Linked DNA regions of Homo sapiens: region 2 is linked to region 1. The links come from fine-mapping of genetic effects on gene expression. A gene starts in region 1. The other region holds a variant in brackets. All regions are shown on one strand. Distances are from middle to middle.

What was found.
Region 2: its variant is fine-mapped to the expression of LAMTOR5 in whole blood (INTERVAL, PIP above 0.99).

Annotation. Positions count from the first base shown.
Region 1 is chr1:110,402,175-110,411,851 of GRCh38, reverse strand. LAMTOR5 (late endosomal/lysosomal adaptor, MAPK and MTOR activator 5) reads left to right here and starts at 4,158. Exons shown (of 4, transcript NM_001382293.1): 1 at 4,158-4,266; 2 at 5,473-5,534; 3 at 7,816-7,933. The coding sequence starts at 4,232. LAMTOR5-AS1 (LAMTOR5 and SLC16A4 antisense RNA 1) reads right to left here and starts at 4,043. Exons shown (of 3, transcript NR_102697.1): 1 at 3,898-4,043. RefSeq lists an enhancer at 3,987-4,216.
Region 2 is chr1:110,310,138-110,327,545 of GRCh38, reverse strand. It overlaps RBM15-AS1 (RBM15 antisense RNA 1), which reads left to right. Exons shown (of 4, transcript NR_036595.1): 2 at 8,664-8,781. Among named protein-coding and RNA genes, the nearest start is that of RBM15-AS1, 20 kb to the left of the region's middle. The variant ATTATTATTG/G (reference allele first, on the strand shown) is at 8,590.

The DNA of each region.
Region 1 (9,677 bases):
AAAAGAGAAAAGAATGAACTTTTTCAAAAGTAAACATAAAAAATTACAATATAATGAAACAAATGCTCTAATACGGATGTCATGGAACTTTTCCTGTCACCCCAGAAATGGTTGCCAGCACTCAAAACTAAGAACAAAGAATTGTTAAATACCCCACAAGCTAAAGAAAGTAGAAAACAAGGGTCAGATACTTTCCCCAACCATCACTCCAGCCCCTAGCACTTGCCCAATTTATATATACTATTCCTCTCCCATTGCCTACTTGCACAGGGGCAAGACAGCAGCAGGGCAGAGAAAGCGGGGGTGGTAAGGAGTAGCCTGCTCTCTCACCTCCCATGTGGCAAGGACATGTGAGCCAGCTATCATCCTCTTCCTACTTGATTTCCCTTCAAAGGCCTTCCTTATAGCTTAAAAAGCAATCGCCAGTCTTTCGGAGAATCCTTTTTTTTTTTTGAGACAGGGTCTCATTCTGTCACCCAGGCTGGAGTGCAGTTGTGCAATCTCAGCTCACTGCAGCCTCAACCTCCCGGGCTCAAGTGATCCTCCCACCTCACACAAAGTACTTGAGACCACAGGTGCGCATCACCATGCCCAGCTAATTTTTGTGCTTTGGTAGAGACAGGGTCTCCCCACGTTGGCTAGGCTGGTCTCAAACTCCTGGGCTCAAGCCATCCGCCCACCTAGGCCTCCCAAAGTGCGGGGATTACAGGCGTAAACCACCATACCAGGCCTGAAAACTACCATGCCTGGCCTGAGAATCCTTTAATCACTGATCTAGCTTTGAGATAATTTGAGATATCCTTGGGCTACACTGGCCAATACTGTGGCCACTAGCCACAGGTGGCTGCTGAGCACTTGAAATGCGGCTGGTCTGAATTGAAATGTGCTGCTAACTGAAAAATATACCCTGGATTTTGAAGACAGTACTGGAGAAAAAATATAAAATATCTCATTAGTATTTTATCAATCACAAGTTGAAATAATATTTTGAATATATTGTTTGAATAAATAAAATGTTATTAAAATTAGTTTCATCTGTTTTACTTTTTTTTGAGACAGTCTCACACTGTAGCACAGCCTGGAGTGCTGTGGCTCAATCTCGGCTCACTGCAACCTCCAGCTCCCGAGTTCAAACGATCCTCCTGCCTCAGCCTCCTGAGTAGCTGGGACTACAGGCACGCACCATCACACCCAGCTAATTTTTGTATTTTTAGTAGAGATGGGGTTTCGCCATGTTGGCCAGGCTGGTCTCAAACTCCTGACCTCAACTGATCCACCCATCTCGGCCTCCCAAAGTGCTAGGATTACAGGCGTGAGCCACTGCACCCTGCCCTGTTTTACTTTTTTTTTTTTTTTTTTTTTTTTTTTGAGACAGAGTCTCGCTCTGTCGCCCAGGCTGGAGTGCAGTGGCGCGATCTCGGCTCACTGCAAGCTCCGCCTCCCAGGCTCACACCATTCTCCTGCCTCAGCCTCCTGAGTAGCTGGGACCACAGGCGCCCACCACCACACCCGGAGAATTTTTTGTATTTTTAGTGGAGACAGGGTTTCACCGTGTTAGCCAGGATGGTCTCAATCTCCTGACCTCGTGATCCACCCGCCTCGGCCTCCCAAAGTGCTGGGATTACAGGCGTGAGCCACCGCGCCCGGCTGTTTTACTTTTTTTAATGTGGCCACTAGACTATATTGCCCAGGCTGGACTTGAACTCCTGGGCTCAAGGGATCCTCCTGCCTCAGCCTCCTGAGTAGCTGGGATTATAGGCACGTGCCATTTCACCAGGCAGTACTTATGTTTTCTAATGCTAAGTTTTAAACTGCTTTTTCTAAAACTTATATGGCCTGTACTGTGTTACCCCTAACTTAACATGAATAATTTCTCTAGAGCAGGAGTCCAAGACCCCTGAATTATAACATTCAAACTGGAATTTTGGCTGGGTGCAATGGCTCATGCCTATAATCCCAGCACTTTGGGAGGCTGAGGTGGGCGGATCGCTTGAGGTCAGGAGTTTGAGACCAGCCTGGCCAACATGGTGAAACCCCATCTCTACTAAAAGCACAAAAATTAGCCACGTGTGGTGGTGCATGCCTGTAATCCCAGCTACTCGGGAGGCTGAGGCAGAAGAATCGCTTGAACCAGGAGGCAGAGGTTGCAGTGAGCTGAGACGGCGCCACTGCACTCCAGCCTGGGCGATAGAGCAAGACTCTGTCTCAAAAAAATAAAGAAATAAACAAACTGGAATTTCAAGGAAGCTGCAAGCTTCACTATGACAGCTGCGGAATAAAAAGGGACTCTGAATGCCAGTGCAGTGTATTGGACTTTGGTTCAATACCAAAGTCTGGTATCTTCCGATCTGGGAGCTGGGCCCCAGATTGGAAGGTAGGCTGTGAGTAAAAAGCTGGAGGTGACAGAGTTGGAAGAAACTTAGTGCAAGGAATGATCCACAGAGGGGGTGAGGCTTACCAATTTGAGTAAATTAGCACCACTTTTTCGGGAGGCAATTTGTAAGTATGTATCAAGAGTCTTAAAAAATGATCATGTCCTTTAACCCAGTCATTCCATTTCTAGTAACTTATAAGGAAATTTTAAAACTGCACAGATATTTAGCTATGAGGATATTCAACCAGCATTGTAATAGCTAAAACAAAAAACAAACAAAAGCAAAAAAAAAAAAAAAAGTCCAAGTACAGTGGCTCACCTGCAATCTCAGCGCTTTGGGAAGCCAACGAGGGAGGGTCACTTGAGACTGGGCTACACACTGAGACTCCATCTCTACAATTTTTTTTTTAATTAGCTAGGTGGGGTGGCGGGTCCCTGTAGTCCCAGCTTCTTGGGAGGCTGAGGTGGGAAGATCGCTTGAACCTAGAAGGCTGAGGCTGGACTAAGCCATGATAGTGCCACTGCACTCCAACCTTAATCCACAATTAAGATACAGCTATAAAATGGAATATTTTGCAACTACTACAAAGGATGTAAGTGAAAACTTGACATGGAAAGACATTTATTCTAAACTCTGTAAAGAAGGCCAGCTACAGAATTGTACCTCCAGTATGTATGTCAATTTTGCTTACAAAACAAACAAAACAAAAAAAACCATGCTAGGCGTGGTGACTCAGCCTGTAATCACATTTTGGGAGGCTGGAGTGGGAGGATCTGTTGAAGCAAGGAGTTTAAGACCAGCCTGGACAACACAGCGAGACCCCCATCTCTACAAAAAAACGTAAAAATTAGCCAGACATGATGGCTCGAGGCTGTGGTCCTAGCCAGTCGAGAGGCTGAGAGGTGAGGATAGCTTGAACCCAGGACGTCCGGGTTGCAATGAGCTATAATCGTTCTACTGCACTACAGCCTGGGTAACAGAGCAAGACCCTGTCCCCCAAAAAATTTATTTTAAAAAGGCAAACGAAAAAACATTAAAAGTATACATTTACAAAGACAACTATCTGAAAGGATATTCTCCAAGAAGTTAAAAGTCGTCTTTGGACAGTGGGGCCATAGATGTTTTCCTATTTTTACCAGCTTTATAATTAATTTTTAAAAGTTATTTTCAAGTAGTCCTACCCAGTCTTCCTTACGAGTTAGGACTCAAATGCCACTCTCTTCCCCTAAACTGTCCTGAGTCCCCTCACCATAATAAGCACCAATGTCTTCGTTAAAATCCCGACACTGCCAACACTCAGCTAGGGGGTTGAACCTTGCTCCATCTCGTCCTTTAGTCTCTGTGTGCGTCTTTCCCCCTACAAGCCTACTGACCCCCTCCAAGAGGTCCCGTGTCTTCCCCGTACTTGCCCCACAGGCTAGATCAGACCCTGTCTGACCCCTGGGTTATTGTAAAACTTAAGATCTGTCCCCTAGGTCTCGGAGTCGGTTGAACTAGGGTCCAAAGGTTAAAAAACACTGACACAAAATGCCAGGCCACGAACTGAAGCACTGAGGCCCGGCTGCAGACCTCTCCCGAGAGGGGAATAATCCGTGCCGGCCGGTTCCGCCATGGAGCCAGGTGCAGGTCACCTCGACGGTCACCGCGCGGGGAGCCCAAGCCTTCGTCAGGCTCTGTGCGACGGAAGCGCAGTGATGTTTTCCAGTAAAGAACGCGGACGTTGCACCGTGATCAATTTTGTCCCTTTGGAGGCGCCGTTACGGTCCACGCCCCGCTCGCGTCAAGTGACTGAGGCCTGTGGTGGAGAAGGACGTGCCGTGCCGCTGGGTTCTGAGCCGGAGTGGTCGGTGGGTGGGATGGAGGCGACCTTGGAGCAGCACTTGGAAGACACGTGAGTAGTGCGCGCCTCTTCGGCCTGTCCTGAGGTCGCGGCGGAGGAACTTGAGCGGAACGAAAGGCGCGAGCTGCGAGTACCGGCCAGGGCGTCTCGGGGACGTCGCGCGACCCCCGGGACACGGGATGAGGGGGCTAAACTCTACCCAAGGCCGCAGGGCGGGGCGGGTGACCCGGAATTAAAATCCTGCCGGGCACCGCACATTCCCTCTTGAGCGAGTCTCCCGGGCCCAGGCCACGGGCCAAAACTGCCTATCTCGTTGTTGAAATCGTCTTTACGGTCAGGGTGGTTCTGCGGAAGTTTTAGAAAACGGGTTGACTTTTGGGAAGATTGTGCCAGTTGTGCAGTGTCGAGCCCTGCAGTGTAAACAAACACGTATCTCCTGTGTGTAACCTATCAGTTACTTGGTGCTTAAGTAGATAAAAATCATTCTTTAAATTTTTCGAACAAGCAGTATCTATGTAAAATTCAAAACTGGAAAAGTGTAAAGGGTACAGAGAGACACCTGCCTCCCACCGATGTCCCTCAGCTTCCACTTACCCTCCAGGAGGTAACTTGAGTTTTTCAACAGTTGTTTTAAATGAGTTAGTACTAAAACATGCGTTTTTAACAAGAGTGAAAACATCCTAGATGTTTTTCACGCAGTGTTTGTGGCCCTCCAGAACTCAGCAGTACTTAGCACATTTTTTTCTCTCATCAGAGAGAAACTGGTTTATTTCAATTAATTAACTAGAACTTAAATTTTTTGTGTTCTTTTTTTGAGACGGAATTTCGCTCGTCTTCCAGGCTGGAGTGCAATGGCGTGATCTCGGCTCACTGCAACCTCCGCCTCCCAGGTTCAAGCGATTCTCTTGCCTCAGCCTCCCGAGTAGCTGGGATTACAGTCATGCGCCACCACGCCTGGCTAATTTTGTATTTTTAGTAGAGACGGGGTTTCTCCATGTTGGTCAGGCTGGTCTTGAACTCCCGACCTCAGGTGATCCGCCCACCTGGGCCTCCCAAAGTGCTGGGATTACAGGCGTGAGCAACCGCGCCCGGCCCTAGAACTTAATTTTTTTCTTAGGGTGTGACAATGAAAAAAGATTGAGAAATATTGATTTAAAGCACTTAATGCCTGGTACATAGAACACCTGTATGTTTGTACTTATTTAAATCCTTTTTCTCCCATTATGTACTTCAACTCTCTTGTGTTCCTGGAATTAGAATGAAGAATCCCTCCATTGTTGGAGTCCTGTGCACAGATTCACAAGGACTTAATCTGGGTTGTAAGTATCTCTCATACCAACTATTTGATGAATTGCATAGCATCTGATGTTGACTTGGAGCCTAGCGTGCTATTATTTTCTAGCTTTTATTTCCTGTTACCTTGCCAGGTCTTTCTGAGTTTGAGAGTAGAGATTATCTCCAAATAACAGTATCAGAAAATTGAAACTTTTCAGTTGGTATTTATGAAGGAAGATGTTCCTTGCAGTCCTATAACAATAAATAGTTGTCTCTACTAAAAATAATATTTGAATCATTTTAAATTGAGTCTAGAAAGGACTTCAGATAATAACAGCTGTTAACCATTTATTGAATGTATGCCATATGCTGAGACTGCTAGGCTCTAAATACATTATCTTTAATTTTCACAACAACCCGGCAAGGTGGGTGGTGTACAATTTTGAAGCTCAACTACACTAAACAAGAAGTGAATAGGCAGTAAAATGGGATTTCAGTGTTGGACATACCTGGTCTCAATCCCTTGCTCTTTCATTTGTTAGTAGTGTGAACGTGGACCAAAAAACTACCTTTTAGGCCCTCATTTTCTTCACTGGGTTGTTATTTGATAATGGTAATAATCATAGAATTATATTTATTGAGCTGTTATGTGCCAAGCACCATTGTAAGTGCTTTACATATACTCTTTTATTCCTCATAACAACCCAGTGAGGTAGAAAAAGAAATTGAGGGACCAGGTGCAGTGTCTCACGCCTGTAATCCCAGCACTTTGGGAGACCAAGGTGGGCAGATCACTTGAGCCCAGGAGTTCAAGACCAGCCTGTGCAACACAGTGAGACCCCCCATCTCTATTTTTACAATAAACATATATATATGTTTTTAAAATTTAAAAAAAGAGGCCGGATGCGGTGGCTCACACCTGTGATCCCAGCACTTTGGGAGGCGGAGGCGGGTGGATCACCTGAGGTCAGGAGTTCGAGACTAGCCTGGCCAACATGGTGAAACCACATCTCTACTAAAAATGCAAAAAAAAATTAGCCAGGCATGGTAGCAGGTGCTAGTAATCCCAGCTACTCGGGAGGCTGAGGCAGGAGAATCGCTTGAACCTGGGAGGCAGAGGTTGCAGTAAGCCGAGATTGCACCATTGCACTCCAGCCTGGATGACAAGAGCGAGACTCTGTCTCAAAAAATAAAAAAAGAAACTGAGACACAGAGGTTAAATAACTTGCCTGAGGTCATGCAGCTAGTAAGTCGTTAAGCTAGGATTTTTGTCTGGCCCTGAGGCCTCTTAATCACTTTTTTTTTTTTTTTTTTGAGACGAAATCTTGCTCTGTCGCCCAGGCTAGAGTGCAGTGGCACGATCTTGGCTCACTGCAACCTCCATTTCCCAGGTTCAGGCAATTCTCCTGCCTCAGCCTCCTGAGTAGCTGGGATTACAGGCGCCTGCCACCACGCCCAGATAATTTTTGTATTTTTAGTAGATACAGGGTTTCACTATGTTGGCCAGGCTGGTCTCGAACTCCTTATCTCAGGTGATCCACCCACCTCCGCCTCCCAAAGTGCGGGATTACAGGAATGAGCCACTACACCCGGCCTAATCACGATATTTTAAGGTTATATAATATGTATAAAATGCTTACATAGAACTGAGACATAATACTTAATAAATGGTAGCAATTACACATGAGGAAATAAGTTTGGAAAGGTAAATAAGTAAAGCATTCAGTTAATTAGTGACAACTAGTAAACCCAAGACTTGTTGCTCCTAATGCAGGAATGTTTAAAGCTCTGAATTTTTGCTGGAAGGGTAACTGAAAGAGGTAATCGGTGTAACTCAGTTATGTTTAACATGCAGATCAGTCATTTGGGAGAAAAAGGGTAAATTTTTGGAAGCATTTGCTAGGCTTACTAATGGAAAGACTGAAATTCAGGTATGGAAATCTAAAACTAAATGAGTTCCTTCAAGAAACCTTCAAGGCTCAAACGTCGGCATCGGATCTGGTCAAAATGTTTTGTATAGTAATAGTACATCCAAATGCTCTGCCATAGTGGCATGTCTATTACCTGATTTGGTTTCAGGTACAGTTAACTTTGTGTTGCCTTTATATACAGAAATATATTGTAAAGTACACTTAGTAATTAATTTTCGTACCTAGAATTTATAGGTACTTTTGTACCCGAGATTTAGTTACTATAATATATACAGACTAATACAGACATTAATAAAAAGACAATTCTGTAGACATTTTAAAACAGCCAGCTAGCTTATTTTAGCAGAAATACTCTATGAGCAATCAGGTGACATATATCATCTCTATTTTCCAGGCCGCGGGACCCTGTCAGATGAGCATGCTGGAGTGATATCTGTTCTAGCCCAGCAAGCAGCTAAGCTAACCTCTGACCCCACTGATATTCCTGTGGTGTGTCTAGAATCAGATAATGGGTGAGTAGATTTCAGCAGATCCTTTCCTTTTTGTTCAGAAAAATTCCTGGTAAAATTGGCGGGGGCCGGCCCTGTGTTCATCAGTGATTCCTTATTCAGACTACTTTGGGAAAAGTTCTTAATCTTTTGAATCACAGGAACAGACAAGTTGATCCCTAAAGCTAATGTGCTCTCAGGCCACAATGCTATTTAAATGAAGAATAAGAATTGGCAGAAGCTATCAGTTTACCAACAAAAAGAAAGTAACAAATAGCACAAAGGAAAACTAATCAGAGAATAAAAATTACTTTTTTTTTTTTTCTTTTTGAGGCAGGGTGTTGCTCTGGCACCAGGCTGGAGTACAGTGGTGTGATCATGGGTCACTGTGACTTCAACCCCACCGGGCTCAAGCGATTCACCCAACTCAGCCTCCCGAGTTGTAGCTGAGACTACAGGTGTACACTACCACACCCAGCTAATTTTTGTATTTTTTTGTAGAGATGAGGTTTCACCATGTTTCCCAGGCTGGTCTCGAACTCCTGGGCTCCAGTAATTTGCCCGCCTCAGCCTCCCAAAGTGCTGGGATTACAGGAATGAGTCACTGCACCCAGCCAAAAATTACTTCTAAAGCAATAAAATTACTAAAGATATTCCAAGTGATGGTCCTCAGAATAATATGTGAAAAAAAGTATATATATACAACTGCTACTATCACAGCCTTGTAAAAAGAAAAAACATACAGTCATGCATTGCTTAACAATGGGGATATGTTCTGAGAAATGTGTCAGGCAGTTTTGTTGTATGAACATCATAGAGTGTACTTAAACCTAGGTGGTACACCCTATTACACACCTAGGCTGTATTGCTCTTAGACTACAAAGATTTGTAGCCTAAATAATGTAGGCAGTTATAACAGTGGTATTTATGTATCTAAACGTAGAGAAGATACAGTAAAAGTATGGTATAGGGAAATTTTTTAAAAGGTATATCTGAATAGGGCACTTACCATAATGGAGCTTACAACACTGGAAGTTGCTCTGAGTGAGTCAATAAAACTTTTTGACTTTATAATAACACTTAAAACAGTTGTACAGCTGTACAAAAATTCTTTTTTTAAACTTTTTTACTTTTTAGACTTTTTTGTTAAAAGCAAAGAAGAAACACACATTAGCCTAGGCCTGCACAGGGTCAGGATCATCAATATCACTGGCTTCTATCTCCACATCTTCTCCCACTGGAAGGTCATCCAGGGCAGTAACATGCATGGAGTTGTCATCTCCTGTAATGATGATACCTTCTGGAATACCTCCTAAAGGACCTGTCTGAGGCTGTTTTATAGTTAACCTTGTCTTAATAAGTAGGAGTAGTATACTCTAAAATAATGATAAAAAGTAGGCCCGGCATGGTGGCTCACACTTGTAATCCCAGCACTTTGGGAGGCCAAGGCGGGCAGATCACTTGAGGTAAGGAGTGTGAGACAGCCTAACCAACATGGTGAAACCCTGTCTCTACTAAAAATACAAAAATTAGGCATGGTGGCAGGCACCTGTAATCCTAGCTACTCAGGAGGCTGAGGCAGGAGAATTGCTTGAACCCGGGAGGCAGAGGTTGCAGTGAGCTGAGATCACGCCACTGCCCTCCAGCCTGGGCAACAGAGCAAGACTCCGTCTCAAAAAAAAGAAAAAAAGTATAGTAAATACATAAACCATAGCATAGTCATTTATTATTATCAAGCGTTACGTACTGTACATAATTGTATGTGCTA
Region 2 (17,408 bases), 88 kb after region 1:
CCTCCCCAGTAGCTGGGACTACAGGTGCCGGCCACCACACCCGGCTAATTTTTTGTATTTTTAGTAGAGATGGGGTTTCACTGTGTTAGCCAGGATGGTCTCCATCTCCTGACCTTGTGATCCGCCCGCCTCAGCCTCCCAAAGTGCTGGGATTACAGGCTTGAGCCACCATGCCCAGCCTTCCTTGTTTTGTTTTTAAAGAGGGAGGCAGTAGAGTTGAAGGGAAAGGAGCAGTGGCACCATTCAGGAGCCCCAGATTCTCTAGACAGAATCTCTCCCTGTCAAGTCCTGTAATTCTATGTTTTGTGACTTTCCCAATTTGGCACATAAGTCTGCAAGGGACAGAACTCAAGTCCACTGACTGCCACCACTGGACACTTTCCACTGTATCCCATGTCAAACACGTTGTTGGAAATGACATGGGTCTTGAGAAGCTGCCTCTCCTTCCCAAAGTAGAAATGTGAACAAATAAATCATCACATGATCCATTCACTGACAAATAAAAGCCAGCCTTTATTGAGCACATACTACATGCCAGGCACTCCACTAAAACTTTCCTCACATTAGCTTACTTTACCCTCACAACAACCCCAGGAGACAGGTAGGCTTATAATCCCTTTTTCTTCAGAAAAAGAAACTGAGGCTTAGAGATCTAATATATTTTACAAATATTTAAGAAGAATAATATGTGTACCCTGATTGATCCCCTGGCTGCCACCACAGTCTGTGCAAAGTATTTGATTTTAAGTCATACTTCCATATTGTGGATGACACTGCTTGTTGTGTAACCAATATCCATTCTCCTGTTCTTTGTTGTGAATAGGTGCAATATTTTAACGGGAAAGTTGATAACAAGTGGTGCAGACAATTCTATAGAAATGTAATGTAGAAATATACAATAACTATGTTATTAATTGCCTGCTTCAAGAATGGTACTTTAACCTCAGTAGTTTATAGAAACCACAAGAGAGTATTTCACTTGATTGTGGACAGTTTAGAGGCAAAATTTAGGTGTTTTGCAAAGGAGATGGAGATTCAGGGACTCTCAATTATTGGACAAAGCGTCTACAGTCAGAGACAATAAAAGTTTGATTTTCAGCTGTTTATTGGGTATTAGGCAAAATTCTCTTGCTGTTTCTAGTGTCTGGTGGAGATATCAATTTAAAGAGCTCTTCAGAGTATATTCTATGTAGTCTTCCTATCTCTCACATCTGAAATTCCACCCACCTATAAAAACTGGTATGGTTATAAAGTTGATAGAATATGAGTACATCTGTTACCAACTGTGTTTCTTTTTTCTTTTTCCTCTTCTTTTTTATGGTTTTAAAATTAATTACATAGAAGACTGCCTTGGCCTCCCAAAGTGCTGGGATTATAGGCATGAGCCACTGCTCCCAGCCAACTGTGTTTCAGTTGGACAAAACGTGGTAGATTCAGATATTTTCTGGGGTGTTTTAGCACATCAAGTCTGTCACACAAATGCAATCAACTTCTGAGATCTCACAAGCTATTTCTGTGAGCCCACTATTAGCGAGATGAGACAAAGTTTAGAGAAATCCAGCCTCTTGAAACAGCTGTAAATCATCTAGTAGAAAAAAAGTGGAGTTTTGGCTGGGCACGGTGGCTCACACCTATAATCCCGCATTCTGGGAGGCCAAGGTAGGTGGATTCCTTGAGGTTAAGAGTTCAAGACCATCCTGGCCAACATGGGGAAACCTGTCTCTACTAAAAATACAAAAATTATCCAGGTGTGGTGGTGTGTGCCTGTAATCCCAGCTACTCAGCGGGGTGAGGCAGGAGAATTGCTTCAACCCAGGAGGCAGAGGTTGCAGTGAGCTGAGATCGAGCCACTGCACTCCAGCCTGGGCGACAGATAGAGACTCTGTCTCAAAAAAGAAAAAAGCAAAAAAGTGGATTTCTGCAAATGTTTGTATATATGTAGCATGAGTAAAAGCAGTATTGCCATGAAATTTTTAAATTGTAAGTTCCAGGCAGGGCATGGTGGCTGACACCTCAAATCCCAGCACTTTGGGAGGCTGAGGCGGGTGGATTGCTTGAGGTCAAGAGTTCGAGACCAGCCTGGGCAATATAGCGAAAACCCGTCTCTACAAAAAACACAAAAGTTTGCCACGCATGGTGGTGGGCACCTGTAGTCCCAGCTACTCGGGAAGCTGAGGCAGGAGAATCACTTGAGCTCAGGAGGCAGAGGTTGCAGTGAGCCAAGATCACGTCACTGCATTCCAGCCTGGGTGACAGAGCGAAACTCTGTTTCAAAAAAAAAATAAAATTGTGATTTCCTTTAATAAATCAACTAATTAATCATTATTAATCATGTTTTATGTGCCTAATAGTTAAAATACAGGGAGAAAATCATGATATGATTCCTACCCAGAATTTGCTTATATGGGGACAAAAACCAGGTACACTTAAAAATTAGTCAATGAATAATTAAAATATAAATATTTATAAGTTAAGCCTTCAAAATATCTTGTATGCGATAAATACATAGAATTTTATCTGTCAAAAAAAAAAAAGTTGTCAAGTATAAAAATTTAGTGAAAGTAGACCAGCACAGACTGGGAAAACCAGGCCAGTTATATGTGTTCATTGTAACATTCCAGACAGTACAGAATGCACAGTATAGAATTCTGATTACATTCCAAGCAATGTTTTATGAGGGGTGCTGACTCTAAGTGTCCTTAGTGTGTAACCTTGGGCATGGCACCTAATCCCTCTGTAAACTGGAGTTGTTGTGAGTAAATAAGAGAGTAGGTAACTGTAAGAATGTCAGGAATTGCTATGGGCAGTTGTGAGATGATGCTTAAACTCTAAAGACCCCAGAGGCTTGGGGACAGGATGAAAGACTTGTATTTGTGATGCTAATAATTAGTATAATTGGGTATAGAATGAGTTGACTCTTGTTTGAGATGTTTTTCAGAAATATAGGAATTTTTGCATATGGTTGAGGGTGATGATAACTTCTATAATCCCTCCCAGCTTTGAAATTCCCAGGTACATAAATCAAACTTGCAGTCATGAAGAGTAAATGGTAGGCCCCAAAGTGCATGGTTACAGGTGGGTGTTAGGCTGGAAAGAGAGTCCTGGGGCTCTTTTTAGATCCTAATAATAGATGTTCCAGAGAACATCTCTAATTTTAAGACATGTTTCTGCACAATGCTTTGCTTGAATGAATTGAGGTAACAGCAGACCACTTCTTTCCCCATTCCCAATCCTTTAGGTACAGAGGGGAGATTTCTGGAGAAGTGAATGGTTATCTATGAGTTATTACAAAGCCAGCTCTGTGTGGGTTCAACTGCTTTGTAGAAGAGGGATTGATCTAGACACATGAATTGATTTTTTTCAGCATCTCTTCCACCACCGTCATCTTAGGCTAAGTTACCACCATCCTGAACCACTTCAATAGCTTTTTAAACAGCTCACCTAGATTCACTCTGGCTCACCTCTGATGAGTTCTCCACTCAGCAATTTGAATGGCTTCCATACTCCTTGGATAAAAACAAATTCCCAACATGGCCTATAGCGCCCTATATGGTGTGGCCTTTTCTATCATTCTAGCCTCATCTTGCTCTCCATTCTTTCACTGGCTTTCTTTCTATCCCATCCTGGGGCAAATGCTCTTCTCCACCCTCATCCCCATGTGAACTCCTACTCATACTTTAGATGTCAGCCCCAGGTCACCTCCTCAGAGCAGCCTTCCCTGACCAGACTGAAGCTCCCTATTATAGGCTCTCATTTGGCCATGTAATGTGACTTTTCTTTATTGCACCTGTCAAAATTACAATTTCATATTTCTTATGATTATTTGATTTACAGTTTAGTGCATTTGATTCATGTGTATCTCCCCCCAAGTCTTCATAATGTCAGGACAGTATGTCTGGTTAGTCACCATTTTATCCAGTCTCAGCACACTGCCAGGCACATAATTGGCACACAAAAATTGTTGCTGAGTGAATGAATGAACGTAATCTATGATAATATTTTCAAATATCCTATAAAATGAAGTTGAGTAAAAAGTCAAATGACTTTAGAAAACACTTTATACCATATTATTTAAGCCTCCATCTCTACCCCCCACACACATATTTTCATATAAAAGACTGTCAAATCCTGCAGTAAAGAAGCCCTCAACTTATTTGACCACAGGATATAAACCAGGACCTACTGGGGGCAGCACTTCTACTTAAGAGAGACAACTTGGATGCCAATGCTAGTGCTGTTTCTGGAAGCAGCAAATGGCAGGAAGTGTTCTAAATGTGTACTAAGAGAAATTTCCCAAGAATTGGCCAGGCACGGTGGCTCATGCCTGTAATCCCAGCACTTTGGGAAGCCAAGGCAGACGAATCACTTGAGGTCAGGAGTTTGAGACCAGCCTGGGTAACACTGTGAAATCCCATCTTTACTAAAAATACAAAAATTAGCCAGGTGTGGTGGTGCACACCTGTAGTCCCAGCTACTTGGAAGGCTGAGGCACAAGAATTGCTTGAATCCAGGAGGTGGAGGTGGAGGTGGCAGTGAGCCGAGATCACGCCACTGCACTCCAGCCTGGGTGACAGAGTGAGACTCTGTTTAAAAAAAAAAAAAAGAGAGAGAGAGAGAGAAATTTCCCAAGAGTCAAGCTGCCTTGGGAATCCAGGCAAGTCTAGGATTTAAAATGTTTTAAATGGCGCCACAAGCACAAACAAGTTCTACAAATAGAACCTGCACAGTTAGCTGAAGAATGGACTCTACTCAGCACAGTATGTAGCACAGTAAACATTTGTTTGGTGAATGAATGGAGAGAGAAAGTATCTGGGGTGATCACACCTTAGCTGGTGGTCTCATCTTTTCATAGAAAATACAATTTTATTGTTAAACCTAAAATTCAAGTGTGAGTAGATCTTTATGTGTGAGCATTTTAACTGGCTATGTAGTAAAGAGTGAGGCATAATAAACCTGCACCATTCACAGGAACTTACATACCTAGTAACTGGATTTAAAGAAGTACCATGAACACGCTGAAGACAATTAAATACTGATCTTGTTGGTTTTGTGATAAATGTTTTGTCCATCGCTGCTAATGCTAGGACTTAATATTAAATTCAGTTTCATCAAATCCAATGTTTTCTCTTTCTTTTTCACCCCAGTGCTAACCCTCTTTGATCTTTTGGTATCTTTTTGACAGTGTCACAACTCCTCTTTCTTTAAATTCTTTCTGCCCTTGTTTCTGTGACCTGCACTTTCAATTCAATTTCATTTCAACCAATATTTATTGGTCATCTATGCTGTGCCAGACACTGGACTATCATCATTGGTTTATTAACTCATTCCTCCACATTAATTGAGTTCCTACTGGGTGTTGGGCACTGTGCCAGTGACGGATACAAAGATGAACAAGATGTAGTCCCTGACCTTAGAGGCTGCACAGTGTAGTGAAGGAGTCAGCTAACTATATCATGGAGTGGAGAGGCTGTTATAGAAGTGCACACTCAGGGCCTGTGGCCCTCAGAGAAAGAATCGATTACTTCTCTATGGGGGGAGGGGGTACATCGCATAGCACCATGCCTGGCACGTGCTAAATTTTCAACAAATATTTGTCAAAGAAACAAATAGTCTTCCAGGTGGAGATAACAGCACAAACAGGGATCTCTAGGGAGCCCTCACTAGCTAAAGTAGTGGTTTTCAACACAGTGAGGCAGAGTATTACGTTCTCTGGAGGCATGGAAGGGGATGGTGAAGGGAACAATGTGTATCTGAAGGGGGATTGCATATGAAAAATGTATTCCTACTGTTGCAATTTAACTTATAAATTTTACAAACATGCATATTTAAAACCACATTACATAAAATATTAATTTATAGATTCAATTTTATACATTTATATAACAAGAATGAGAATAAAATTATTGTTTTCATAATATGAATTACAGAAATTAAAGCTCAAACTAGGAAAACTGGATAAATATAGGTAAATATAGAAGTTCCAGAGGTTCTGCAGCAAAACCATTGTCTTCTTGAGGATGGTGGTGAGATTTTTATGTTTAACAAAAGGGGGTGTAGAATAATGGGCTCTGAAGGACTGTATTTTGTAGGTTAAGGTTTGTCAACTGGTGTCAGAATCAAAATCAAAATCACCTGGGGATCTTGTTTTTTTTTTTCCATTTTATTTTATTTTTATTTATTTATTGTTTTTGTTTTGGGGATGTTGTTTTAAAAAGCAAATTCCTGGATCCTATGTGTTACATAACAATAGGGATACATTCTGAGAAAAGCATCATTAGGTGATTTCATCGTTCTGCAAACATCATAGAGTGTATTTAAAGAAACCCAGAGAGCATAGTCCACTATACACTTGGGCTATATGGATAGCCTATTGCTCCTGGGCTACACACCTGTACAGCATGTTAACGTACTAAATACTGTAGGCAATTGTAACACAGGAGTATTTGTGTATCTAACATATTTAAACCTAGAAAAAGTATAGCAAAAATACAGTATTATGATCTTATAGGACCATTGTCCTGTAAGACAGTGTTCGTCATTGACCAAAATTTCATTATGTGGCTCATGACTCTGTGTGTGTATACATATATATATAATTTATTATAAGGAATTGGCTTATGCAATTATAGAGGCTCAGAGGTCCCGAGATCTGCAATCAGCTAGCTTGAGACTCAGGAGAGCTGATGATGTTAATTTCTTTTATTTATTTTTGAGATGGAGTTTCACTCTTGCTGCCCAGGCTGGAGTGCAATGGCGTAATCACAGCTCACCACATCCTCCGCCTCCTGGGTTCAAGTGATTCTCCTGCCTCAGCCTCCCAAGTAGCTGGGATTACAGGCATGTGCCACCACACCCAGCTAATTTTTTGTATTTTTAGTAGAGACGGGGTTTCTCCATGTTGGTCAGTCTGGTCTAGAACTCCTGACCTCAGGTGATCCGCCCGCCTCAGCCTCCCAAAGTGCTGGGATTACAGGTGTGAGCCACCGCACCTGGCCTCAATGTTAGTTTCATTCTGAAAGTTGGCAGGCTTGAGACCCAAGAACAACCAATTTTTTAGTGGGAATCTGAAGGCAGGAAAAGACCCATGTGCAGTTCAAGTGGTCAGGCAGAAGGAGTTTCCTTTTACTCCTTTTGTTCTATTTGGGTCTTCAATTGATTAGATGAGGTTTACCCACATTAGGGAGGGCAGTCTGCTTTACTCAGTCTACTAGGTCAAATGTTAGGTGTATTTTTGTTTGTTTTGTGACAGAGCCTCACTCTGTCACCCAGGCTGGAGTGCAGTGGTGTGATCTCAGCTCACTGCAACCTCCACCTCCCAGGTCCAAGCGATTCTTGTGCCTCAGCCTCTTGAGTATCTGGGATTACAGGTGCCTGCCAGCATGCCCACCCGGCTAATTTTTGTATTTTTTGTAGTGATAGGGTTTCCCCATGTTGGCCAGGCTGGTTTCAAATGCTTGGGCTCAAGTGATCTGCCTGCCTCAGCCTCCCAAAGTGCTGAGATTACCGGTGTGAGTCACTGTGCCCGGCAAATGTTAGTCTTACCCAGAAACACCCTCACAGACATACTCAGAATAATGTTTGACCAAATGTCTGGACGCCCTGTGGCTCAATCAAGTTGACACAAAAATTAACCATCACACAGATGATTACTGATACATACTGTGTATCATATAGATGCTTTTGAATGCACACTGTAATCTGAGGACCTTTACAAGCCATTAGGGACCATGGAAGGTTTTCAAGAAAAGTGATTTGATCAGATTAGCTGGGAACTGCTTAAGAAGGATCCCTGGTGGCTATGTGGAAGGTAGATAGTGATAGGGTAGGGTAGGTGAAGCAGGGCAGAGTGGGGTGGAGCAAGACTGGAAGACAGGAAGGTATTGTGCAAGACAGAATGATGAGGTTCTATTCTTTTCTCTGCTAATGACCCTTTCCCCCTTACTATTGCTACATAACAAGTTACTCCAGTGCTTAGCAGCTTAAAACAATTGTGGGTCAGAAATCTGGGAAGGGCTCTGCTGGGTGGTTCACACTTGAGGTCTCCCTCATAGTTGTAGTTGGATGTTGGTTGGGGCTTTATTTATCTTGTCTGTGCTAAGGTAAATAAAGATGCATGGTTGGCAGTTGATGCCAGCTGTCATCTGCTGTACACAGCCTCTCCAGCAGGGTAGTCTGGGGGTAGTCAGACTTCTTACATGACATATGGCTTCATTTCAAGAGAACCAGGCAGAAGTCTCATGGCCTTTTCTGATCTAGCTTCAGAAGTCATACAACATCTCCTCTACTGTACTCAATTAGTTGAAGCAGTCTCAAGTGGTCCAGATTCAAGGTGGGGTGGGAGGAATTAGACTCCACTTCTTGATGAGGGCAATGGCCAGTTGACAGTATAGAAGAACATGTGGGATGGGAACACGTGTTGTGGCCATCTTTGGAAAAAACAATCAACATAGCTCCCAAATTGACTTATTTTATATACACAATTACCCCCAAGATATCTCCACTTGGAAGTTTTGTTGTCAACTCAAGTCTAAAAGAGAATTTATCACAACAAACCTCCATCCCATTATTATTATTATTATTATTATTATT[ATTATTATTG/G]TAATATGATAACTTTTTAAAAAAACAGACTAAAACATTTTTCTTTTCTTTTTTCTTTGAGACAGGGAATTGCTCTGTCACGCAAGCTGGAGTGCAGTGGTGCCATCTCGGCTCACTGTGACCTCTGCCTCCTGGGCTCAAGCCATCCTCCCACCTCAGCCCTTCAAGTAGCTGGGATTACAGGTACACGCCACCATGCCCATCTAATTTTTGTATATTTTGTAGAGACAGGGTTTCTCCATGTTGCACAGGCTGACTAAAACCTTTTATCTTTGACTTTTCTCTCTCTGAAAATAATCTGCTACAAAGTCCTATTTTTCCTTCTTCCTTTATGTTGGTTCCACATCCCACTTTCCTAATTCTGGAGTGGGCCCCTAACTGAAGTCCATTTATCTAAATTTCTAATATTGGGTTCCCTGGGAAGTGAACTCTGAGGCAGAGCTTAGCATGCAGGGTTTTTCTTAAGGGGTTACTTTGAGATGGACACCTGTGGCAGGGAAGAGAAGGAACTAGAATTGGGAAGGATAAAAAATGGAGCTGCAATACAGGCCCAACACAGCCTCAGCTGACTCAGTGAGGAGCTCTGGAGTTAGAATGTTCCTTCAGAGTTGTCCCACAATGGGCTAAGACGGATGAGCTTTTATGTTTCTGCATTGTCCAGTCATTGGATGGGCCACCATGGAAAGGAGCATGAGCTTGGGCAAGGCAGCTCTCTGCAGTTGAGGAAATCCCCGAGTGGCTGACAGCTGCTGGTTGTGCACTTACAGCACTCCCAGGAGCTGGAGCAACAAGTCCTTCCTTCATTCAGTCTTCAGTAAACTTCGTTCCACATCATTCTCTCCTGTTGACTTACCCTCTGATTATTTCATGGCCGCTATTTTGCCCCACTCCAGTGCAGCTAGGTTATGAGCTCCTTGAGGGAAGGAATGGAGGCCTGCCTTTTCCCCACGATATTCAGCACAGATGAAGTACAGATATATGTATAGTCAGAGCTCAAAAGGTGCTTGGTAGTCAGTTAACCAGGGCTTCGGACTGATGCAGAGATTGCTGACCGTACTGTTTGTATTACCATTACCATAGCAGAAGAAATACTTTAGGGGACCTTCACCTCATTGTCTTTCTGAGGGAGAAGAAAACTAACATCCTTGTTATTAATAGCTGCCCAGAGCTTGTGGTGCTGGGCAGGGAGTGGCAGCAGGTCCCGGAAACATTGCCTCTCTGATTCAAGCTGCATCTGAGGTCCTACTCCCCACCCGGCCTTTCCCCTCCACGAAGTAGAGCTGGGATCCTTCTGGTTCTCACAGGGTGCTGTGTGCATTTAACTAATTAGTGGCTATAAAGTGTTGTCCAAATGTCAAGTATAGTTATGGTTAGCAATTACTTTTGCCTGGAGAGGCAGCATTCCAGCCATTGTCGAGGGAGGGAGATAAGTGATAGAGTGTTCTATTAGAGACTGGGGGAGCAGGAGCTGCTTTCCTGCCCTCAGAGGGTCAGGAATCTGGATGCAGCTTTCACACACACACAGGACACACCTAAGCAGGAATCCCCTGTGGAGTCATATTTTTCTTTATCGATTCATTTCCAATGTGGAAAGAGAGAAAAACATTTCTGAAGTGCACTGCCCGGAGCCACCATCAAGGTAGCTTCTTAGAGTGTGGTTGAGCTCTGAAAGCCACTCATGAAGACCCCCTTCCCCGGGCCCCTTCCCCGGGCCCCAGAGATGTTGTGGGTGAAATCCACCTGCAGGTTTTCTTGCCACCCCCACAGCGTTACCTCAGCATCTGAAATTTAACAATAGCCTCTGCAATCATAATAATACATTAAAAATAAAGTACTTTGGGGCTCCCTAAATGGAAATTTCTATGTGATTTTTATATTTAGAATTCTTTCTCTCCCTCTGGGTAAATTTTATAAATAACCATTGGGAATGTTGAACAGAATTCAATTTCCATATTGATTCTCTTTTGTCTTTTCACATAGGAAATACCAAGCAATTTTTTGTCACGTGACCTTTTCCCATGAAGGTTTATAAAATTAGATAATGTAAATTGGCAGGTAAATAGGAAAGGAAGGAAGAAAAGAAGGAAACAATGATGTGGAAATAAGCAATGGTTTGCTTAGAAAGAAATGAAATTCCATGTTCTATCTTGAGATAAATACAGGTTCATCTCACTATCCTGCCCGTTTGTAGTTAGAGTTGGAGGCTATACTAGCTAACATTGATTGAACACTTGCTGCGATCCACATAATTCTCAGGTACCTCCTATGTCTTATCTCATTTATGTCTCACATTAACCCTGCAAGTAGATATTATTATCAACCCATTTTATAGAGTAGAAACTGAAGACTCTAGAAATTAAGGAATTTACCACATGTCCATCTGGCTCCAGAGCCAGCCAGGGCTCCTAACATCACTCTGCTACTAAAGGCTGGGTGGGGCATGCCGTGAATGTGTAGGGATTGTCATTTCTAGAAACAAAAGCCAGAGCACTGTAAGTTCCTGGGATCAATGAAGATTCCTTCATGCCAGCTCACTATGGACACCCCAGAAGCATTTTTGACCCTCTTTACCCCAGGACTATGCAGTCTCAGAAGTTTCTTGGTGAAGCTTTCCTGTGTCTAAGTATTGAAACTCTAATTGAAACTTGAGTCCATGTCCATTATTTACACTAACTCAGAAATAACCTTAGAAAAATATATATATTTTTAAGGGATAGGGTCTCACTCTGTCACCTAGGCTGGAGTGCAGTGGCTGATCATAGCTCACTGCAGCCTCAACCTCCTGGGCTCAAGTGATCCTCCCACCTCAGCCTCCCAAGTAGCTGGGACTATAGGCATGTGCCACCATATCTGGCTAATTAATTTTTTGTTTTCGTAGAGACAAGGTCTCACTATGTTGCCCAGGCTGGTCTTAATCTCCTGGGCTCAAGCAATTCTCCCTCCTCAGCCTCCCAAAGTGCTGGGATTATAGGCGTGAGCCACTGCACCCAGCCCAAAGACATTCTTTTATATAAAAACCTACAGGCAAAGTTTTTCCTGACACATCCCTCCCCCACCCCACACCCCAGTCTAGGGCAGTTCTTGCTACCCATAATGCACTCTTAGAGCATTCTAGTCTTTTCCTTCATAGCATTTATTGTAGTTGTGGATTATATGTTGGTGTGACTATTTGACCAGTATCTCTCTGCCTCACCAGGTTGTAAAAACCCCATCAGGGCAGTGACTGAGTGTGTGTCACTGTGTGCAGCATCCCCAGAACCTAATACCATGACTGCATGGAACAAGCACCCGGATATAGGAATGAAGGACGCTACTGGTGGCCCCGTCCAGTTCTGAGAAAATGCTGCCACAAGCTACAAGAGAAATCTGCTTCTCTGAAGCCTTTAAAGATTTGGTTACTTTTTCAAAATGAATATTCTTTAATACACAATTTCAATAATTTCTGAAATGAGGATAATGGCTGGGTTTTTTTTTTTTTTTTTTTTTTTGAGATGGAGTCTCGCTGTCACCCAGGCTGGAGTGCAGTGGTGCAATCTCAGCTCACTGCAACCTCTGCCCCCCGGGTTCAAGCAATTCTCGTGCCTCAGCCTCCTGAGTAGCTGGGATTACAGGTGCCCGCCACCACGACTGGCTAATTTTTTTATTTTTAGTAGAGACGGAGTTTCACCATCCATGTTGGCCAGGGAGGTCTTGAACTCCTGACCTCAAGTGATCCGCCTATGGCTGGCTTTTTATAATAGTTAAGAATACTGCTCCTGGAGTCAGAGGGTCTGGTTCTCATCCTCTGATTTTGATCACAACTTGCTGCATGATGATGATCAAGTGTTTGAACTTCCCAGTGCATCCATTTCCTCCTGGGTAAAGTGGGGCTAATACCGTTAAAGCAATGATGTAAAAATTAAATGAGCTAACACAAGTGAGCGTTCAGAATTGCATCTAGTGCATGGGAATCCCTCATAAGTATTAGCTATTATTATCAGTGTGCTATCAGCTTGGAACTCATGTAGTTCTGCTACAGATTTGTATTGTTCCTGAAAACAGAATATGAGACCAAATTGAGGCCAGGTGTAAAGGCATCTGGACCTTATATCCCTGCTGTCTAGTTTCTTCAAGAGGCCAGAGAGAACCTCCCTCAACTCCAGCCTACCAAGTGTCATTTATTTTAATGCAGTGTGCCCCCAGTCTTAGGAAATGGAATTCTTCATCTTCCAAGGCCTCTGGCTGAGACTGGAGACTTGTGCCTGCTCCACTGCTTGGCTGGATTAGATGCCCTAGAAAGATACTTTTAACTCAGAGAAACTGTGACTCCATGAAAGGGTCAGATCCCACCAAAAGTCATCCCAGTTCTCCATCAGTTTCTCTCTCCACTCCACCTCCCCCAGCCCATCCTCCGTCTGGGCTCCAGGGCTCTTTCCTTCTGTGTTCCCACAGGATGGTGCCTGCTTTTACCCACCCTCTAGACTTTGCCCCAGTCACCTCAAACAGCCGAGGGTCCAAATTTAGTAATAGAAATTCACTTCTCTAACCACTTTACAAAAACATTAACTCATAACTCACGGAAACCCAATGAAGTCGGTGCTGGTGGCACCTCCATTTTACAGATGATGAAACCGAGGAGAGGAGGGAGGTTGAATAACTTGGCCCAAGGTCACTTGCTGAAAAGTGGCAGAGCTAGGATTCACTGCCTCTGGTTCACTGCCTTGAAAGGAAGGAAAGTCTCCCCACTCCCACCACTGGGGAACTCTTCTTTAACTTTCTCCACAGTATCATTGGTCCGATAAATGAGAGGCAAGGAGAGAAACAAAGATGGATGTATGTATAAACTTAGGCAAGCATGGAGAGCCATGGTGATGTGGTTAAGTGTTAGTTCTTGAGCTGAATTGCACTGGTTAGTGTCCTGGATTTTGAATGTACTAACCCTGGAAAATAAAATTAGAATAATAATAAGTGTACATACATACCTTACAAAGTCATTTTGGACATGAAGTTAATAAATATTAAGCCCCTTAGAACAATGTCTGGCATATAGTAAGTGCTCAATACTTGTTATCTGCCTTTTTTTTTTCTTTTTACGTTCTCAAAAGGCAGAAGCAGCAATGCCTTTGTATAAAGAATGGTAGACTTGGAATCAGAAGATTGAGTCTGAGTACCACTTAGCTTTTGCTTCCTGTATGATCACCAGTGAAGCATTTTTCCTCTGTGAGGCCTTGCTGTTTTCATCCCTAAAATTGGGATGATGATACTTTTACACACTGAGATGGTGGCCTATGAAAGAGCTTTGTAAATTTGCAAGCTGTGGCCAAATAATTATCCCATTTTGTGATTTAGGACTTCTCCTAGAGTAGACAGAAAGTTGCCTTTCAGAAGGTCTTCAGACTCGCTTCTTGGCCTTTTGGCTAAGTTCAAGTGCAGAAAGTCTTCAGACTGAAAATACCTTCATCTTTTAGAATTCCACCACTGGAGAGTCATTGTCCGAGTCTTCCAGACTTACTAAGATAAATGGCAGGAAGTAGAGAGCCCAGTGTGTTTGCGGGGAGAGAAGAGAAGTCTCAGGAATATGACTGCCGTCTTCAAGGAGTTGAAAGGCTGTCACAGGGTGGCCTGGTCAGACTTCTGAGTGACCAACAGGTAAGAACTGGGTCTCTAAGTGGAAGTGTCAGGGCTGATTTAGTGTGAAAAAAGAAGAGCATTCTTTTGATTATAGCTCTCGGAAAGTGGAAAGGGCTACCTGATAGTGAGTGCCTGCCATTGGAGGCATTCAAACAGAGATTTGAGACCACTCCATGGGAATGTGGTAGAGGAAATGTAACGAGTCAGGTGGTGATGAAACTAGTTGACCTGGGCCTGGGAAGATCTAATTCATCCTAGAATGGCAGCACGCTGTGAGGGAGGGGAGCGCCTCTGAGGGAGCGGAGAGCTGGTTATGCAGGGACGCAGGAGGAAAGTATAGGGGGAGGCCTGCTGGGAACACAGGCCCAGCTCAGCAGAATTCACTCTTTTCCCAGAGTAGCTCCTGTCTCTTCGGCCACTTTAGGCCCTAAAGCCTAGAACTGTACATGATACACTCATTCATTCAGTTAATTCAGCAAATATTTACAGGCCTGAGAGTCAATTCCCACAGCGGACACAGTGTGGGATTGCCTGCCCTGGCAAGCCTCCTGCCTGGTGACCAGCAGAGGGCAGGAGAGACGTGCAGATGCCAAACCCTGCACAGCCCACTAGCCAAGTGAGCTTCCCTGCCGGGGAAACTGGGTCACTCAGTCCTGCCAAGCTGCAAACATTCCGAGGGTTGTGAGCATGTTGGGCCTCTCCGGCAAGGGCCTCTCCAGCAAGGACCTCTCCAGCAAGGGCTATGAGGCCCTAGATGTCACCTGGCAAGGCTGAGACCTCAGACCTCTGGACTGGCAAAGTCGCTCCCTCCTGCATGGGGAAGGAAGGAAGGATGAGGCTGATAACATGCGATGGCTCAGGGAGAAGGCTGAAGGGATCTCTTCCCAGCAAAGTGTTTCAAGTAACAGGGACAGCCCAGTCTACATGTCACAGAGGAGCCATGGGAGGCCAGGCCTGCCACGGTGGATGGGTGGGGCCGTTTGCTTCAGAGAATGCCTGGACTTCACTAAAGGAGTTTGAGGCTCTCCTTAGGCTGGGCTGAAACCCCCATTTGGAAGTGCATAAAAGGCTAACTCTCTGGATATGAATGGGTGAATGCCAAATCTGATACCTGAGTGGTTAGGAGGCAGGTTTGGAGTCAGATTTGCCTTTGTGTCCTGGTTTTCCATCTATATGTCATGGGACCTTGGGTAAGTCATTTTCAGACTTGATTTCCTTTTCTATAAACTGGTGGTGCTACTGTGAGTATTAAGTGGAATAATGAAGCAAGTGTGCAGATTGCGATTCTTTCTCCTTCCCAGCTCTCTCTCATCCTGGTCGGGGGACTGTGTGCTTGGGATAACAGTTGAAGCAGATGTTTTTTTGAGAATGGAAGCGAAGAGTGGATGCCCACCATGCTGTCAGTCTGGGCAGGGTGAACTCAACCTGAAGGAATGCTGTTCTGGGTAAAGCACGTGGAGCCACCTCTCCCCAGGCTTCTCTGGCCCCCATAGAGTCCTGCTGCAGAAAGATGCGCAGTGTATGAAGGCTCGCGTGGCCTCTTGAAGTCTGAGGGTTAAGAAATCAGGGAGGTGAAATAGGCCTGGAATGGGAGGAAACTGGAGGATGGAATGGGAAGGAGCCATTCCCCAAATTCCCATTCCATTTATGGACTCTGACGGTTAGAAGGGCCACTTGAACCTGCAAGCAAGGACCAGTTTATGCACTCTTCAAAATGTGTTTTCTCAACTAATCTAAGACATTGAAGCAAGGACTTTGTTGCCCATTCCTCTCCAGGAGGGATGGTGGGTGCTGATGCTGCTATGTAAAGGCTCTCAGCACCGTGCTCAATACTTGTTTGCTATTGATGAGGAAGGAATCTTGGACAAGTAATTTGAGTTCCCAGTTTTACTGATTAAAAAATAAATAGAACTGAGGCTCAGAGAACTGTGGAACCAGGAGAGGTAAAGTTCCTCTCATTTGCAATTGCTGCTAGAATCCTCATCTGTGACCATCTGGAGAAAGTGGCTCGATCCCTATGGTGAGCTGCTCAAATCTTGGAGTCTCTCTGCCTCCTTGGGGATTTCTCTTTGGATACATCCTCTCTACTAAACTCTAGCCACTGCTTGTGTTACCCAACCCCAGATGGGAGACAGACTGAGTTTTCCTCATTCCAGCCTATCCTTTAGGGCTCCAAGGAGCAGCAAGTGCTTCTCAGGTTGAGGGGTAATTCACCAGGTGTGTAGTGCTGGCAGCACAATGTGATAGAGCCAGTCACCTGCATTGCAATTCCAGCACCACCATGTACTGGCTGTGGGACCTTAGGCAAGATACTTGATATCTACAAGTCTCAGTGTCCCCATCTATAAAATAGGGACACTAATAGTATTTACCTTATAGCTCCTGTTCTTTCCAGTCCCTCTTAATCTGAAATTGGAAGGATGAATAAATTAAACAGCCATCTTCTTCCCTGGGAAAGCCAAAGAGCAACTCAAAAGGAAAGAATCGGAAGCTGGGCTTTGGAGTCTTCTTGTCCAGGCACTAGGAGCTGTTGGGTGGTGTAAATAGCCCTGGGCTGGGAGAGAGGACCATGGCCTAGCACATCTCTGCTATCAGATTGCTACCTTATCCACATTGCCAAGCCTCTTTGGGCCTTAGTATCCTCCTCTGGACAATGACAAGGTTGAGCTTGCTGACCATGGAGGTCCCTGTAGCCCTGCCCCTACTGAGATTCTCAGCCGCAGAGCTGGGCCCTCGTTCTTTGGGATTCAGCCCAGGCGTCACACAGTCACAGTGGCTGAAGAGGCAGCACTTTGCTGAGCTCTGGCCTACTTCCCAGAGAAGGTCACTCGGCCCCAGGGAAGCCCCTGGTTTGCTGGTTTGGATGCTGTGGAGGGCCAGGCAACAGGGACCTTAGCCTATTGGCATCTGGTTCCAGCCAAAGCTTTTCAGGGACGTGTGAGGGTAAGCAGCAGGGCTGGCAGAAGCAGTGAAAACCAGCCCGGAGCTTACGTTCTGTGGCCTTGCTTTGAAATCTACAACCTCAGCCACCTGGGAAATGATGAAGCTCTGAAAAGAAACACTGGTCAGGGGCCCAGGGGAAGTTTCCTCCTGAAAGGCCTGTGTGAGGATGGATTCCATGTGAGGGGGAAAGTATTGATAGAAGGAGGCTCTGCAAAGGAAAGCAAGCAGGGAAGGAGCAGGTCATTAAAGGATTCAGA